Homo sapiens: one gene and its partners. Changing the gene in region 3 together with the main gene of any one other region gives a genetic interaction. Each region holds a gene or a part of one and is shown on either strand. Other genes may lie near its edges. The genes, in order: KRAS, RIT1, EIF4A3 and EGFR.

Region 1 (4,164 bases), on a different chromosome or scaffold from region 3:
AATTTCTAATTTGTGCAAATTATGTTTTATACAGTGACTGTAGGTGAATGTCACAATTGTTTGATGTGACGAATCCTTGTTTTTCAGTACACGTGGAAGTAATTCATATAAAAGAGAAGTATACTTGGTAATTAAAAATTTAAAATTAAATACAATTTAAAAAAAAATTTATTTGACAAGCTGGCTGTGGTGTGTGTGCCTGTAGTATCAGCTGCTTGGGAGCCTGAGGCAGGAGGATTGCCTGACCCCAGGAGTTTGAGGTTGAAGGGAGCTATGATGGTGCCATGGCACTGTAGCCTAGGCAACAGAAAGAGACTCCATCTCTTAAAAAAAGTAAAAATAAAAAAATTTTGGCACAGGGACAGTGGCTCACACTTATAATGCCAGAACTTTAGGAGTCCACAGCGCGAGGACTGCTTGAGGCCAGGAGTTTAAGACCAGACTGGGCAACGTAATGAGACCCCACCTTTAGGAAATAAATACATAAATAAAAATTTGACAATGATAAACATATATAAATTAGCTTTTCTTAGTCCTGAAAAAGATAATGTTATGTGTATGTGTGAGAATGATTAGTTCTCATATGAGAAAAAAAGAATTCATTGCTCTGTGTAGGTTGTGACATTTCCTTCACGATTGAAATTAATTAATTTTTTTTTATTACTTATTTATTTTTAAAATAGAGACAGGTTCTTGCTGTGTTGCCCAGGCTGGTCTCAAACTCCTGGCCTCAAGCAGTTCTCCTGCCTCAGCCTCCCAAATTGCTGTGACTGTAGGTGTGAGCCACTGCACTGGGCCAAAATTACTTAATTTTAACAAGATGATGTAGAGAGGAGAGTTCATTGCAACATAAGCCTAGAATCTTTGTCAGAATCTTAGGAAGTAATGTTTTCAAATTCTGTGTTTTCACCATAAAATGTGTCTTCTCTGTGTCCATCACATGGTTTTTCATTGTTTTCTGCTTTACCATTTTAGTACCATTGGCATTTTTCTTCATTGTAAAAGTAGTAGAAATGGAGTAGATTACATAAGGATGTGATCAGAGGGAATTTATTCATTCAGGGTAAGGGAGTTAGATCCTCTTTTAAGATTCTATCACATTCTAAGGGTTTATGATTCTAAACTGTCAAGTAAATTGTCAAGTGCTGGCAAGCTACAGAATAATTTTTATTGTATCATTGGAAATTTTCCCCTCTATATGTGTTAAAGAGTTTAGCCTGAAGGGATACATACACATACATATATGTAATCAAACCTTGATGGTATTGTATTGCTGATAAATTATTTCTTACCACTTTTCCTTTCTCCTGTGGGAGAAACAAAAGCATATGTTTGTGTAGTATCAGTAATGATATTAGAGAGTGGGAAACATCAGTGAGTGCAGTTTGGGGACTTTATTGGAGACTTTCACTAGTGCTCAAATAAATAATGCTGGTTTTTATCCTACTGTTTGCTTAATGTGGACTAGCCTCTTATTCCCATTCTATGTTTACCTCTCTTAAAATATTGGTCACGCTTTCTTGAATTATAGATCTATTAGGAAAATTCATGAACTGTAGCTAATTTTCATTGTTCATGCTCCAGATTTATTTTGAAATATCGTTAATCTTAGTAGTACAGTAAAGGAGAAATACCACTTAACATTTTTTGTTTTTTTTTCTTTGAGACAGAGTCATGCTCTGTCACCCAGTCTGGAGTGCAGTGGTGCTATCTCGGCTCACTGCAATGCACTTCGCCTCTCCGGGTTCAGCAATTCTCCTGCCTCAGCCTCCTGAGTAGCTGGGATTACAGGCACCTGCTACCACACCCAGCTAATTTTTGTATTTTTAGTAGAGACAGGGTTTCACCATGTTGGCCAGGCTGGTCTGAAACTCCTCACCTCAAGTGATCCACCCGTCTTGGCCTCCCAAAGTGCTGGGATTACAGGCTTGAGCCACCGCACCCCGCCCACTTAACATTTTAAATTAATTTCAAGATAATATCACTTGAATATTTTTACACATATAATTTTTTTAATACATTTATTTACACAGTTTATAATATCCTACAAAGTGATTACAATGAGTAAAAACCCAGTTTTCATTGTTCCTAAAGTGGCTTGATTTATACAACTTAATGTGTTGGGTATTTGTTTCTAAGACTCCCTCTGCTGTCTAGGTTTGGAAGTATTGTGAGGTTAACAGATTTTCTTTTTATAGTTACTACTCAGTTGAACAGGCTTTAAAATACAGAGAGAATCATATTTTTTCTTCATTTTTTGCTTTTATTTATATTTTTCTTTTAATTGGAGACATGACAAGAATTGACTTGTGTATGGATCTTGCATAATTTAAGTACTGCAGGTTTAAAATCTACTACCAGTTTGAGAGTGCCATTTTTCACACTGTAGATTATTAGGTTGAAAAGTATTATGGCTTAAAATCGCTTTTAGCCATTAAATTTAAATAACCTTGCTTTAATCATAAATAGATGGTGGTCACAATGACTAACTGTTAAACTCTTTGAAGACAGGATATTTGGCTTTATATGGCAAGCTTTTGAATACAACAGAAATTAAAACTTTATGGGATAGAAAGAATCTCCTCCAAATTGGTAAACTATAAGACCTTTCAAATGATTTAGCTAATTTCTCCACAAATCTGAGGTATTAGTGTTTTTTTTAAAGTGGTATTCTCCTGTGTTGGGGTCACTTTAAACCTTTTTCTTAATGATAAATATATGAATTGAAACTAATCCCTTAATATATATCATTTGAAAACTGAAATAATATGTTTAGATACTGTTTACTTGTTGATAAATTATTGGAATAGGATGTTCGAATACTGTTTACTTCTTGGTAAATTTTTAAATCCAATGGATTTTACGTAAGTATAGAACTGGAGCTCAAATACTGTTACTGTGTGTGAAGATATATGAACATAGTTTACAGTTGCATGGCTTATATCTAAAGTCCAGAAACATAAGGACAATTAAGTGTACACACACACACATGCATTTGGATTTTGATGACTTAGGTTTGCCAATGTGGAAAAAATAGTAGCAAATTAAGTTCTCCTGTGAAAAAGTCGTTACCTTATTTAAAATTCTGTGCCATTGGTTATCCTTGTCTTTTGTGAAAATTAGTGTTCCTGTTTATAATATTGACAAAACACCTATGCGGATGACATTTAAGAATTCTAAAAGTCCTAATATATGTAATATATATTCAGTTGCCTGAAGAGAAACATAAAGAATCCTTTCTTAATATTTTTTCCATTAATGAAATTTGTTACCTGTACACATGAAGCCATCGTATATATTCACATTTTAATACTTTTTATGTATTTCAGGGTGTTGATGATGCCTTCTATACATTAGTTCGAGAAATTCGAAAACATAAAGAAAAGATGAGCAAAGATGGTAAAAAGAAGAAAAAGAAGTCAAAGACAAAGTGTGTAATTATGTAAATACAATTTGTACTTTTTTCTTAAGGCATACTAGTACAAGTGGTAATTTTTGTACATTACACTAAATTATTAGCATTTGTTTTAGCATTACCTAATTTTTTTCCTGCTCCATGCAGACTGTTAGCTTTTACCTTAAATGCTTATTTTAAAATGACAGTGGAAGTTTTTTTTTCCTCTAAGTGCCAGTATTCCCAGAGTTTTGGTTTTTGAACTAGCAATGCCTGTGAAAAAGAAACTGAATACCTAAGATTTCTGTCTTGGGGCTTTTGGTGCATGCAGTTGATTACTTCTTATTTTTCTTACCAATTGTGAATGTTGGTGTGAAACAAATTAATGAAGCTTTTGAATCATCCCTATTCTGTGTTTTATCTAGTCACATAAATGGATTAATTACTAATTTCAGTTGAGACCTTCTAATTGGTTTTTACTGAAACATTGAGGGAACACAAATTTATGGGCTTCCTGATGATGATTCTTCTAGGCATCATGTCCTATAGTTTGTCATCCCTGATGAATGTAAAGTTACACTGTTCACAAAGGTTTTGTCTCCTTTCCACTGCTATTAGTCATGGTCACTCTCCCCAAAATATTATATTTTTTCTATAAAAAGAAAAAAATGGAAAAAAATTACAAGGCAATGGAAACTATTATAAGGCCATTTCCTTTTCACATTAGATAAATTACTATAAAGACTCCTAATAGCTTTTCCTGTTAAGGC
Region 2 (4,042 bases), on a different chromosome or scaffold from region 3:
ATACAAAAAATTAGCCAGGTGTGGTGGCGGGCGCCTGTAGTCCCAGCTACTTGGGAGGTTGAGGCAGGAGAATGGCGTGAACCCAGGAGGCGGAGCTTGCCGTGAGCCGAAATCGCGCCACTGTACTCCAGCCTGGGCGACAGAGCGAGATTCTGTCTCAAAAAAAAAAAAAAAAAAAAAATCATTCTTTCACTTTTCATTTAGTGTATTTACTTATAACAACTTTAAGTAACCCTTGATCAGGTAGCAAATGTGCTGTCATTTTCCATATGTGTTTTTCCTGTCTCCTCCCAAGAGGTAATCTCTTCAAATGAAGGGGGATTCCATGGCATGCTCCCTAGCACTTGACATGGGTGTCTTGTTCATGGTGGGCACTCAAATTTTTTGAATTCATATTTTCCAGAATATCACATCTCATGGTTATGTTTTTCTGAAAACAACTCTTTTGCAATGATTCCAAAAACTCTACCCACTGATAGGGAAGCAAAGGAAAGCCCAAGTTGTTTAAAAGTTTTGTATTATGTCATACAAACTGTCTTCACATACAAGTGCATTAAAAAAATTATCCCCCCCTCCTCCTCCCCAAACATCACAGTAGACCAATTCTTGCTAATATATGACAAAGTTAAAACATATGTCCCCTCTGAATTCTAAACAGCTAATTCTAGACACTAACATCTGGATCTTATAATTTACCGGTCTGGTATGGACATGAACAGTTCCAGTGCCTTTCAACTTATCCCTGAATTTTTCTCTTCTCAAAGTTCTAGGCAGTAATTTTAATGCCCTCAAATTAGATAAAGCTGATTACTTAGAGCTTATAAATTAGCTACACTTTATGACACTAAGAATAGAGCTATGACTTATGCATATCATACCTGTCAAGCTACCTAGCACCACGAATAGAACTAATATTAATGGATGGACTAATACAAGGATCTAATATATGACAGTGATAGTCTTAAAAACACCGATTTGTTATTTTCCTTATATATAATCCAAATTCCTTTCTATCCTTCTGGCAATGTTTCTACTGCCTGACTACCTTAAATAACTATATAGTGTCAATTTCTTGCTTGGGCCAGGTGGTGGCTCATGCCTGTAATCCCAGCATATTGGGAGGATTGCTTGAGCCTAGGAGTTCGAGATCAGCCTGGGCAACATAGTGAAACCTCATCTCTATTTAAAAAAAAAAAAAAAAAAAAAAAAAAATATATATATATATATATATATATATCTCTTAATGTTAATAACAATTCCCTAGGTCACTAGTAATAAGAAGCTATGGGCTTTAAACTTAAAAGGTGCTAAACCAGTTTAAATGTAAAACATTCTCATAATAGAATTGCACTGTATTTCTTTTCTACTTTGATGCTTTTCCAAAGTGCTATAGTTCCTGTGAGATTTGTGTCCTGCACAGAATCAAATGCTAGGTCTTTCACTTTTGGATGGCTGAGTACCATAAAACATGATTTATTTGGTAACAAAAATGTTTCCAGGAGTTTAAAAAGGGACCACTACTCAGAGCTAAAAAAGTTCTAACAGTCACTTTTTAAAAAAGCTAGTTTATCATTTGTTTATAAAGAAAAACACAACTCTGTCCTACTTCCTCTAATAAAAATGGAAAATATTAAGATGAGCTGTGTGCTTATAAAGAGGTGCTACACAAGTCATCTTACGTTTCTAGTCAACACAAACATTGCTTCAGTGACACTTAATATTCAATACATGATGCATTACTCTTAGCATTTTTGCATTTACTCTCCGCATATAACAAGGTCAGATATCAAAACAGTCCTGATCTTAGACAACTCACTACCAATATTTAAAGCTGTTTCCTCCTAGGACTACAGTTCCTAAACTATGCACAGGGAGCAAAGTGGTATTCCCTTAGGATAAACTTGGTCAAGGCTCAGATAACCCTGAGATGAACTTAGCAAAGTCCTTGTAAAGAAATCTTCAGATGGGAAACTCCACCTATGTGAATTTTAAAGCTTTAAGACTGACCCATTCAACAGAAATAGCAGATTTTCTCAGAGCACTGAGTCTAGTGATTGTCCACGTCAAGGAGGCACACACACAATTTTACCCACACCCCTGATGTCTCTTCTGTATGGAAAATGCAATCAGTGATGAAGGGCCGAAAAAACATCTTGCCAGCTGTAGCTCTTTTACAGAGCACAAAGTGGGAGGAAGCAATGAATATAAATGTGTTGGTGTGTGCGTCTGTGGGGAAAAAATAAACCTGTACAAGGCAATGGCTGATCCAACTATGAATTTTGATTAAACACGTTTAGTAATACAGTTATGATTCCCAAAATGTCTACCTTTGAAGGTAAAAAAAAAAAGAAAACCCTGAAATGAAGAGTAAAATAAGGTTCCCAGGAGAAACCTTCATCACATTTTATGCTTCTGGCTGTTCTCACTTATCCCGGTGAATTTGGGCCAAATGTGTACTTCTTAGAAAAGCGAAGCTTGTACTGAGAATACTGTTCTGAACCTACCTTTTTAAGTCCCTGCAAACATATAGCCCAACTTTCCCAAATCTCACCACTCCATAGTCTGCAACAGGTGTCAGCCTCACAGGTATCTGCTGAAATTTGGCACTGATCTCATTAGCCCCAATTTCCCTACATGATTTTTGTTCTGTCTCTAGGAAGCATAGTGTGAATAGAAGAGACTGAGGTCTTTCTCTGGGATAGTCCCAGGAAATTGAAATTAAAGGATAATGTGGAGTGCAGAGCCAAAAACTTCCCTTGTGAACTTAGTCAAACACACATGGTATACATATTCTCCTGGGTATAAACAAATTTACATTAATTAATAGCGCAACAGAACCCAAAACATTGGTAGAACAAATTCTAATGTGACAATTTAAAAGCAGACAGTGCTCCACTGGGTTAATAAATCATACTTAACTAAGAGACAATACTTTAAATACCACATCATTAAAAACTCCTAGTAGGCATGTCCCTCTTATCAGTTAAGTGAAAGAGCAAGCACCATACTCAGTACTGCAGGTTACTGGACTGCTTTGATACAGCACTGCAGTTCACAGATAAACACTTCACATCTTCTCTTCAAGTTACTGAATCTTTCTTCTTCCGGAATGGTGATTTTAGCCTCTTCCATACACTGTTTTTGGGCTTAGATTTTTTCTCCATGGCCAGTACTGCCTCCTTTTCTTTCCTACGTATCTCCCGTACAAGGGCATGGAAAACATCATCAATATAGTAGCGGTATGCAGCAGATGTCTCAAAAAAGGGACAGCTGAATTCTCGGGCCAAGGCCAATCCTTCTTCCTTGGTGACCTTTAAGGGCAAAATGTGAGAAAAGATAACAGTGAAAAACAATTAAATTGTCCAAAAACCTGAATGCACCACCACCTTAACACAAAGAAAGCTTCTCAATTCTGGAGGTGTTCAAGCATACAGCACTAATTTTTGTAATTTTAGGCTAGATTACTTCTAAGGTTTCTTATTCTGCCTTCAAATGATATGATTCTATTTCTAGTCTACTTTTTTTTTTGAGACAGAGTTGCGTTCTTGTTGCCCAGATTGGAGTGCAATGGCATGATTGTGGCTCACAACCTCGGCCTCCCGGGTTCAAGTGATTCTCCTGCCTCAGCCTCCTGAGTAGCTGAGATTACAGGCATGCGCCACCACACCTGGCTAATTTTGTATTTTTAGTAGAGACGGGGTTTCTCCATGTTGGTCAGGCTGGTTGTAAACTCCTGACCTCAGGTGATCTGCCCACCTCGGCCTCCCAAAGTACTGGGATTACAGGCGTCGGCCACTGTGCCCGGTCTCTAGTCTATTTTTAAGATACTTTTTGGAACAGGGAATAGTTTTAGATATCAAATACACAATCTTAATTTTCCCCATACTTTTTATTTTAAGAAAGATAAATAGGCTGGGCTTGGTGGCTCACACCTGTAATTCCAGAACTTTGGGAGGCTAAGGTAGGAGGATTGCTTGAGCCCAGGAACTTGAGACCAAGCTGGGCAATATGGTGAGACCCTACTTTTACAAAATTTTTAAAA
Region 3 (4,164 bases):
CAGATGGATCACCTGAGGTCAGGAGTTCGAGACCAGCCTGGCCAACATGGTGAAACCCCATCTCTACTAAAAATGAAAAAAAAAAAAAAAAATTAGCCATTCCAGCTACTCGGGAGGCTGAGACACAGGAGTCACTTGAAATCAGGAGGCAGAGGTTGCAGTGAGCCAAGATTGTGCCACTGCACTCCGGCCTGGGTAACGAAGTGAGACTGTCTCAAAAACAAACAAACAAAAAAAGACACACACAGCACATATGTTAAGCTGACCACAAGGTGGGCAAAGAAGGAAGTCTGAATCAAGTTCAAATGAATGAAACCACCCAATCCACGCTTTCTGACCACTGTGGAATTAAACTAATCGAAACGATGAACAGAAAACCCCCCTACTTACTGGAAAAGAAGACACACGCTTGTAACCAAGGTGACCAACCTGGCTAGTTAAGGCTAGTTATCACCTCAACCTAAGTATTACAGGAGCACAGCGGACCCCTCCTTAACTGGAAGGTTTTCTGCTCACCCAGGGCCTCAGCTTTCAGAGCAGAAGCTTGGCATCCCCCCGGGTGTGGGGCCTGCACTTAGGCGGTACATATGAAGTGCTTAGACACAGTCTAGCAAACCCTGACCTGCAGAGCCACAGCATAGCAGACCCACCTGGCGCCCGACCGGAACTCCTTCATGATGGACTCCCGCTCTTTCTGGGGCATGTCTCCATGCATTGAGGATACAGTGAAGTTGGCTTCCCTCATTTTCTCCGTCAGCCAGTCCACCTACAAATCCAATCAACAGATGCTACTGCAAGCTAGTATACCAAAGCAGAGATGTGCATTCGGGACTTTACCGCATCATTTGCAGAACCAGTATCAATATTCGTAAGGTAACTGCTCTTAAAACTCAGAATCATCCTAACTGGATGTAAAAACTTTTTCCCAGAAAATGTTGGGGTGCACTCACAAAACCCTCTTACTTCATTTTCTCCATATAATGACTCTATGGGGGGAGGGGGCCAGGTGTGCTCATTCTCATTTGAAATTTGAATTCCAATCTTGTTAGAATGTAGCCCAACTCCTTTCCTTTCTCAGGAAAGTGGCCGACAGTTCTCAGGTCTGCCTCCACATTACCATCACCTGGGGATCTAAAACTACTCAGGCCTGGGTTCCACCTTCAGCCAACGAAATCTGAATCTTTAGGGGTGGCTGATATCGCTGTTCTGTAAATGAAGTTTTAATGGTCACAGCCACGTCTGACCGTTTGCATATTGTCTACAGCTGCTTTTACAAGAGAACACATACCCTGAAAGCTTAAAATATGGACAAACTGGCCCTTTACTGAAAAATCTTGATTTATGTCATTCAGAGACTCAATCTGCAGTTTCCCTTCAGCACATGGATGCTGTGCAGTGCCTCTTACCTTTCTTTTGGTGTTGCAGAAGATGACCGCCTGAGTGATGGTCAGTGTGTCGTAGAGGTCACACAGAGTGTCAAATTTCCACTCTTCCCTCTCCACTGCCACGAAAAATTGCTTGATGCCTTCCAGAGTCAATTCATCACTGAAGGACAAAGACAAATCCTGTTACATACTCATCCTTCCTTCTAGGACTTGAGGGTGGGCCAAGCCAGGATCCAGGGAGACCCTGGTGGAAAAGGTCACACCGTGATATCTGGTGCAGACCCAGCAGCCCCAGCCCTGTCCTCCATCCTATCACCACTTCCGTCACACAGGCCTCCATTCTGTATCCTACTTAACATTTCACAATGTGCACCACATGGAATACGATTCTAAACGAAACACTGATAAATAAATAGTCACCTAATTTTTAAATTTAGAATTATTGGTTCAAACCACAATGAGGATTATAAAAGATGGGTTGTTTTGTTTTGTTTGAGACAGGGTCTTGCTCTGTTGCCCTGGCTGAAGTACAGTGGCACAATCAAAGCTCACTGCAGCCTCAGCCTCCTGACCTCAAGCGATCCTCCCACCACAGCCTCCTGAGTAGCTGGGACTATAGGCATGTGCCGCCCTACCTGGCTAATTTTTTATTATTGGTAGAGATACGGTCTCTATATGTTGCCCAGCCTATTTGGTTTTTTAAAACAGGAATTTTAAAAGAATTTGCATGCTTTCAATTCCTTTACACTCAGGCAAGAGGATAGCCTGAGGTCCGGGTTTTGACACGAGCTTCAGCAACACAGCCAGACTCTGGCTATAAAAAGTTTTTGAAATTACGACATAAAATCCTTTATAAATGCGGCCCAGTGTTTTAGTAAACTTGACAAGAGGGGCTCCTACCGTTTCACCAAGATGCGGATTGGGTCGGTCATGAACTTGTTGGTCATCTCCAGAATCTCGTGTGGCAGCGTGGCACTGATGAGAACCACCTGTGTGGCTGGAGGCAGGTACCTGTATACATCGTAAATCTGCTCTTTGAAACCTGGGACAGGGAGCAAGACAGGTGAGGGATGTTTAGGGCGGCACACCCAGAAATGGAAGGTGCACGCCCAGTGTTCCCACTGGGTTAGAGGCAGAGTGGTGATAAGGTACGTTTGACAGGAAATCTCATTTTTACAGCACCAGGCCACATCCACGCGTTCTCTCCGTCCCTACTCCCCGCCCACCGGAGTGTTATCTGGTTGAGGGAATCTGGTTTCCCTTTGGTGCTTCTTCAATCTGAAGTGATCTAGGGATCAAGAAACCCACCCCGAGAGTCCTAGATACCAAATAAAAAGCAATAGAGGCTGGCCTGAGTCACCCACAATGAACAAATAAATAAAATCAAGGTAGGAATTTTTTGTTCATAATTGCCAAGGCACAATTGTTTTTCCACGATGAAAACACTATTCACATTCAGAACAGTCACTGGCTGTTTCAATTTTACACTGTGAAAATTTAAGAACTAAGAATTATGTCAGTAGAAGAGTAATTCTTTTGTTGCTCATACCTTTATTCAACATTTCATCAGCTTCATCCAAAACCAACATTTTGATAGCACGTGTCCTTAGGCTTCTGCGACGAATCATATCTATAACATGAGATTTTGAAATACTTACGACAAATCACATCTATGAGATTTTGAAATAATCACACCTGAGGCTCCCAAGAAAGAGCTCATCATTCCACTGGTCTCAGGGTTCCAGAGACCTTCCCTCTACCTCCTGCAAGTGACCCAGGTGCAAAAGTCTACCGTGCGGCCTACCAAATCGAAAGCTGTCCTGTACCATTTAAGCACTTCTTACAAATACTACCGGCAGCACCATTTTTAGCGACAAAAGTGCTTACCAAAAACACGCCCTGGAGTGCCCGCGACAACATGCTGTCCGTAATCCAGCTTCCTGATGTCCTCGCCAACATTGGTGCCTCCAATGCAGGCATGGCACTGGACATTCATGTAGTCACCGAGAGCAAGCAGCCCCTGAAACAAAGCACAGGTTCACGTCCAGGGTGGGAGAGAGAAACATCCACGTTTTCCAAAAAGAAAGACTGTTTCTCCTCCGAGATGATCACCGATTATTATTTATGCCATTATTATCTCGAAACCACAAAATTCTCCTGCTCTTTTCTCTGACAAAAACAAGTTAATTTTGCTTTTTTTTTTTTTTTTTTGAGACGGAGTCTCACTCTGTGGCCCATGCTGGGGGGCAGCAGCGCAATCTTAGCTCACTGCAAGCTCCGCCTCCAGGGTTCACGCCATTCTCCCGCCTCAGCTTCCTGAGTAGCTGGGACTACAGGCGCCCGCCACCACACCAGGCTAATTTTGTTTTTGTATTTTTAGTAGAGATGGGGTTTCACCGTGTTAGCACACCGTGCTGTGTGCACCCTATATGTGTATTCAGAGAGTCGTTATCTCCTGACCTCGTAATTGGCCTGCCTCAGCCTCTCAAAGTGCTGGGATTACAGGCGTGAGCCACCACACCCGGCCTGCTGGTTTCTTATTACAAAAGCTATATCATTAACAGAAAAGAATATATAAAATTCATAATCCCATCCACCGAAGAAACCAGCATTAACATCTTAATATACATCTTTTTAAACATACATCTTTATACTACGTTAAGTATAAAATGGGTACAATTTATTTTTTTTTTGAGACAGAGTTTCACTCTTCTTGCCCAGACTAGAGTACAACGGCACAATCTCAGCTCACTGCAACCTCTGCCTCCCGGGTTCAAGT
Region 4 (3,500 bases), on a different chromosome or scaffold from region 3:
GCAAGGGGAAAGGGCCCAGGGAGCCGGCTCATGACGATGAGCCTGTCTGAAGCTTCAACGCGGGCTGTCCGGCAGTCTGCATTCCTGCCGAGTTCCTCAGCCCTCTGTTGGGTCACCTTCCATAGAGGCAGCTTAGTCCTCAGTTCAGTGAGCATGGAGTGGAGACTGCTTGAGGGGTGCTGAGCAAAGCCCTGCCTCTTACAGGATGAAGGTGCTCTCCAGAAGGGACACTGGAAAGTATTCCAAGGCGAGTCGAATTCCCAACTGAGGGAGCTTTGTGGAAATAAGCCCGCCCAGCCCCACTTCTGGAGACGTTCCCATTCAGTAGGTCCGAGCTGTCTTAAAGAGAAACCAAAGTGGGGATATTAATGGTATCCAAAGTGAGATCTACCCCACCCTCCCTCCTCAAAGGAGGTCAGATCAAGAAAGCCCAAGCCCGGCCTGGCAATTGGGACCTTTCTTCTCACTCCAGCCCAGGGTGAAGGTGGACAAGTCACTTTGACCCTTCAGGCTTCTGAGCTGTTGTTTCTGAATTCAGTGAATATTTACTGAGTGCATAGAATATGCTAGATATTCTGGGCTAAAGGTTGAAGGGGGGGTGAGTTTTAAGGGTTTCTGCTCTTGCTTCCAGATTGCTTTCAAATCTGGAAAGGACACCAGTGGTTTGTGTGTTAGACCCACACTGCCGTAGCACAGAATACAAGAAACTGGCTGAGAGCTCCAATAGGCTTTTAACAGTAATTTCTGGCTTCACGTATTTAGTTTCATAACTCATGATTTTTCAAAAACTTCTGGTTTGAAGACACCGATTGCCGAAAGTCCATTGTGCTGCATAATTACACTTGGTCCACGTGACAGCACTAACATGTTCTGAAATGTTTTTAGAAGTAGTCTCAGCAAAGATGAAGGATTCCTCCCTGTTTGAAAAGAAAATATTCTTTGTTTTTTCTTTGATCTAAGCTCTAAGACTAGCAGCTAGCATCTGAAACTTTTTTGACGAGAGTGACAAACCAACTCTAATATTAAAGGCAATTGATGATTATGGGCACTGAAGGGAAGGTAACCCCAGGCTGGTGCCCCGGAATAGGGATGGGTCACAATGTTGAGGACATTTCGCCTGTTGCAGAACCCACCTGCAACACAGTGTGGCCCTTGCCATGTGACTTGTGTGTGTGCCTGTGTGTCTGTGTGTGCGTGTTTTAATTTTGACTTCATAAGTACTCTAGTTATGAGCTTATTTAACATTGGGTTTTACTAATAGGGGTATGTGTTGAGAAAATTTCAAAGTTTTAGAATATGGTTCACCCACATGTTGCTTCCCTGTAAATATAATTTTTAAAACCAGATTCTGGGCCGGGCATGGTGGCTCACCTCTATAATCCCAAAACGTTGGGAGGCCGAGGCAGGCGAATCATGAAGCCAGGAGTTTGAGACCAGGCTGACCAACACGGTGAAACCCAGTCTCTACTAAAAATACAAAAAAAATTAGCTGGGCGTGGTGGCAGGTGCCTGTAATCCCAGCTACTCAGGAGGCTGAGGCAGGAGAATTGCTTGAACCCAGGAGGCAGAGGTTGCAGTGAGCCAAGATCGCACCATTGCACTCCAGCCCGCGCGACAGTGTGAGACTCCATCTCAAAAAAAAAAAAAAAAAAACAGATTCTGTTCCTCAGATCCATTCCATTTTTGTTTTCCTTTATCACTTATGGACATTTGAAATTATGGTAATAAACATTGTTAGTCTCAGTTAATTATTACTGGTTTATTCTTGAACCACTAATCCATAGAGAATAGAGTGTAAATCTTAACTTGTTCCTGTAGGCCATCCCCATTAAACATCATAGTGTTTTCTCATTCGTTCTTTTTCGTTTTCCTCCTACAGGAATGAATTTTCTAAGAAAATTCCAGCAGTTGGCTCTTTGGACGACATCTCTAGATTGTCCTCCATTGGGCCCATAGGCACAAGCTGGCCAGTTTGAATTTGGGCAAGAATCCAGGCATTGGAACTTATTCAAATAACTAGTTTGCCTGTAATTTTCACTTTTTCAGAGTCATCTGATAAAGCTTTCTTGCTACACATTTAGATAGATACACTCAATCCAGTTGTCTAGAAAGTTCCCTGAGCCAGCTGGGAGCAGGAGGGGTAGTTGGGGCCAGGAATATTGGGGGTGTGTTTACTGAGCCCCTAGAAAGTAAGTGCTAGATTTGACATTTCAATCCCTGAAGGCCCTGAAGTTCAGTATCAAATGACTGGTCCTGTGGACTGAGCATCTGTGAATTGCATATGCTTAGAGTAAATTTTACTCCTACCAGTTTCAGCAGCTTGCTTTAGCAAGCAGTATGGAAACACTAACATGGGGGAGTAGAATTTCTCTCTCTGATCCAAGTTTTATCTCATTCTGGTGGGTTTTCAAGGAGAGACTCGGAGTCCAAGTGTCCTTTCTGAATATATCTGGAACTTCTCATTAACAAAAGACTCAAGTTATAATTTAGGGGACAAGGCACCCAATGAGAATGCCTTGCAGGCAGCCCTAAGTACACCTGCAATTACACCATTACTAGCGCGGCAGCACACATGGCCCTGACTTAGTTTAAATAATTACGTAAGTCAACCATGATTGTTTGCCCTTTGCATAGAAGGGCAAGTATTGGTACCTGTTACAACTTAGGCTTTTTTTTCTTTATGTTTGAGCCATGATGAGTGATTTACACTGTTGCATCCATATGTTGAGATGTAAGAATAAATTAGACTTGGTAATTGCCCTTAAGTGTCTGGAAGTCAACTGGGGAAAGAGAGCTAGAGATAATAAGTGTGAAACAATGTCACAGAATCAATGACGGAACTCTTCCCAGGACAAAGGATGACTTTTGAGTTCAGTCTTTGCCTTTAATTCTACATGGGGAGGAGAGCACGTTTAGCCACAAATGGAAGGGATTACTCATTTGAGCTATTTGGTTATATGATTATTTCCCCAGAGAATAGGATGTGCAGGGCATTACACAAGCAGTGCCAATAGCAGCAAAGTTCTTGAGAGTGCTAGTAATTCAAATGGCAGGAAGAGAAGGAATAAATGGTAAGGCTACCTACAGTTCACAGAGAGCTCCATCCTCACTGTGGCTTTGGATTTTGTCCTGTGTGAAAGAGAAGTGACTGTGAACTGACATGCTGTGTTTGGTGTTTTAGAAAGATGGCTGCAGCAGCGGTTTGGGGAATGGACTGCAGGAGTGGCATTGGAAACAGGAAGGTTCATGACTATTGCCAGAGACAGAGGATGAAGCAGGAGCAAGGAAGATTCAGGACAGGGGACTCCGGGGCTGATCAGGAGGCAGAACTGGTTGATAAGTATATGTAGCAGCATAAGAAAGAAAGAATCCCAGATTGACACCCAGGCTTCTCACTTGGAAGCCTGGATAGATACTGAATGCAATCACAAAGGCTGGGAAGTCAATGGGACTGCAGGGAAGGGAAGGGAAGGGAGGAGAAGAGGAAGGGCAGGAGGGTC

The links.
Region 1: changes in EIF4A3 (region 3) and KRAS are lethal when combined (synthetic lethality), as found in Homo sapiens cells (3 studies listed by BioGRID, with this or other methods).
Region 2: changes in EIF4A3 (region 3) and RIT1 together harm fitness more than expected from each alone (negative genetic interaction), as found in Homo sapiens cells (one large-scale study listed by BioGRID).
Region 4: changes in EIF4A3 (region 3) and EGFR together harm fitness more than expected from each alone (negative genetic interaction), as found in Homo sapiens cells (one large-scale study listed by BioGRID).

What each region holds. Positions count from the first base shown.
Region 1 is NC_000012.12:25,209,077-25,213,240, reverse strand, and holds part of KRAS (GTPase KRas), read left to right. Parts: intron 1-1,062; coding exon of another isoform or gene 1,063-1,063; intron 1,064-3,329; coding exon 3,330-3,446; 3' UTR 3,447-4,164. UniProt on the Homo sapiens protein: Ras proteins bind GDP/GTP and possess intrinsic GTPase activity. Plays an important role in the regulation of cell proliferation.
Region 2 is NC_000001.11:155,897,308-155,901,349, forward strand, and holds the end of RIT1 (GTP-binding protein Rit1), read right to left. Parts: intron 3,312-4,042; coding exon 3,081-3,311; 3' UTR 501-3,080; downstream 1-500.
Region 3 is NC_000017.11:80,136,736-80,140,899, forward strand, and holds part of EIF4A3 (eukaryotic initiation factor 4A-III), read right to left. Parts: intron 3,406-4,164; coding exon 3,273-3,405; intron 3,016-3,272; coding exon 2,935-3,015; intron 2,428-2,934; coding exon 2,286-2,427; intron 1,546-2,285; coding exon 1,407-1,545; intron 767-1,406; coding exon 651-766; intron 1-650. UniProt on the Homo sapiens protein: ATP-dependent RNA helicase. Involved in pre-mRNA splicing as component of the spliceosome. Core component of the splicing-dependent multiprotein exon junction complex (EJC) deposited at splice junctions on mRNAs.
Region 4 is NC_000007.14:55,022,017-55,025,516, forward strand, and holds part of EGFR (epidermal growth factor receptor isoform a precursor), read left to right. Parts: intron 1-3,500. UniProt on the Homo sapiens protein: Receptor tyrosine kinase binding ligands of the EGF family and activating several signaling cascades to convert extracellular cues into appropriate cellular responses.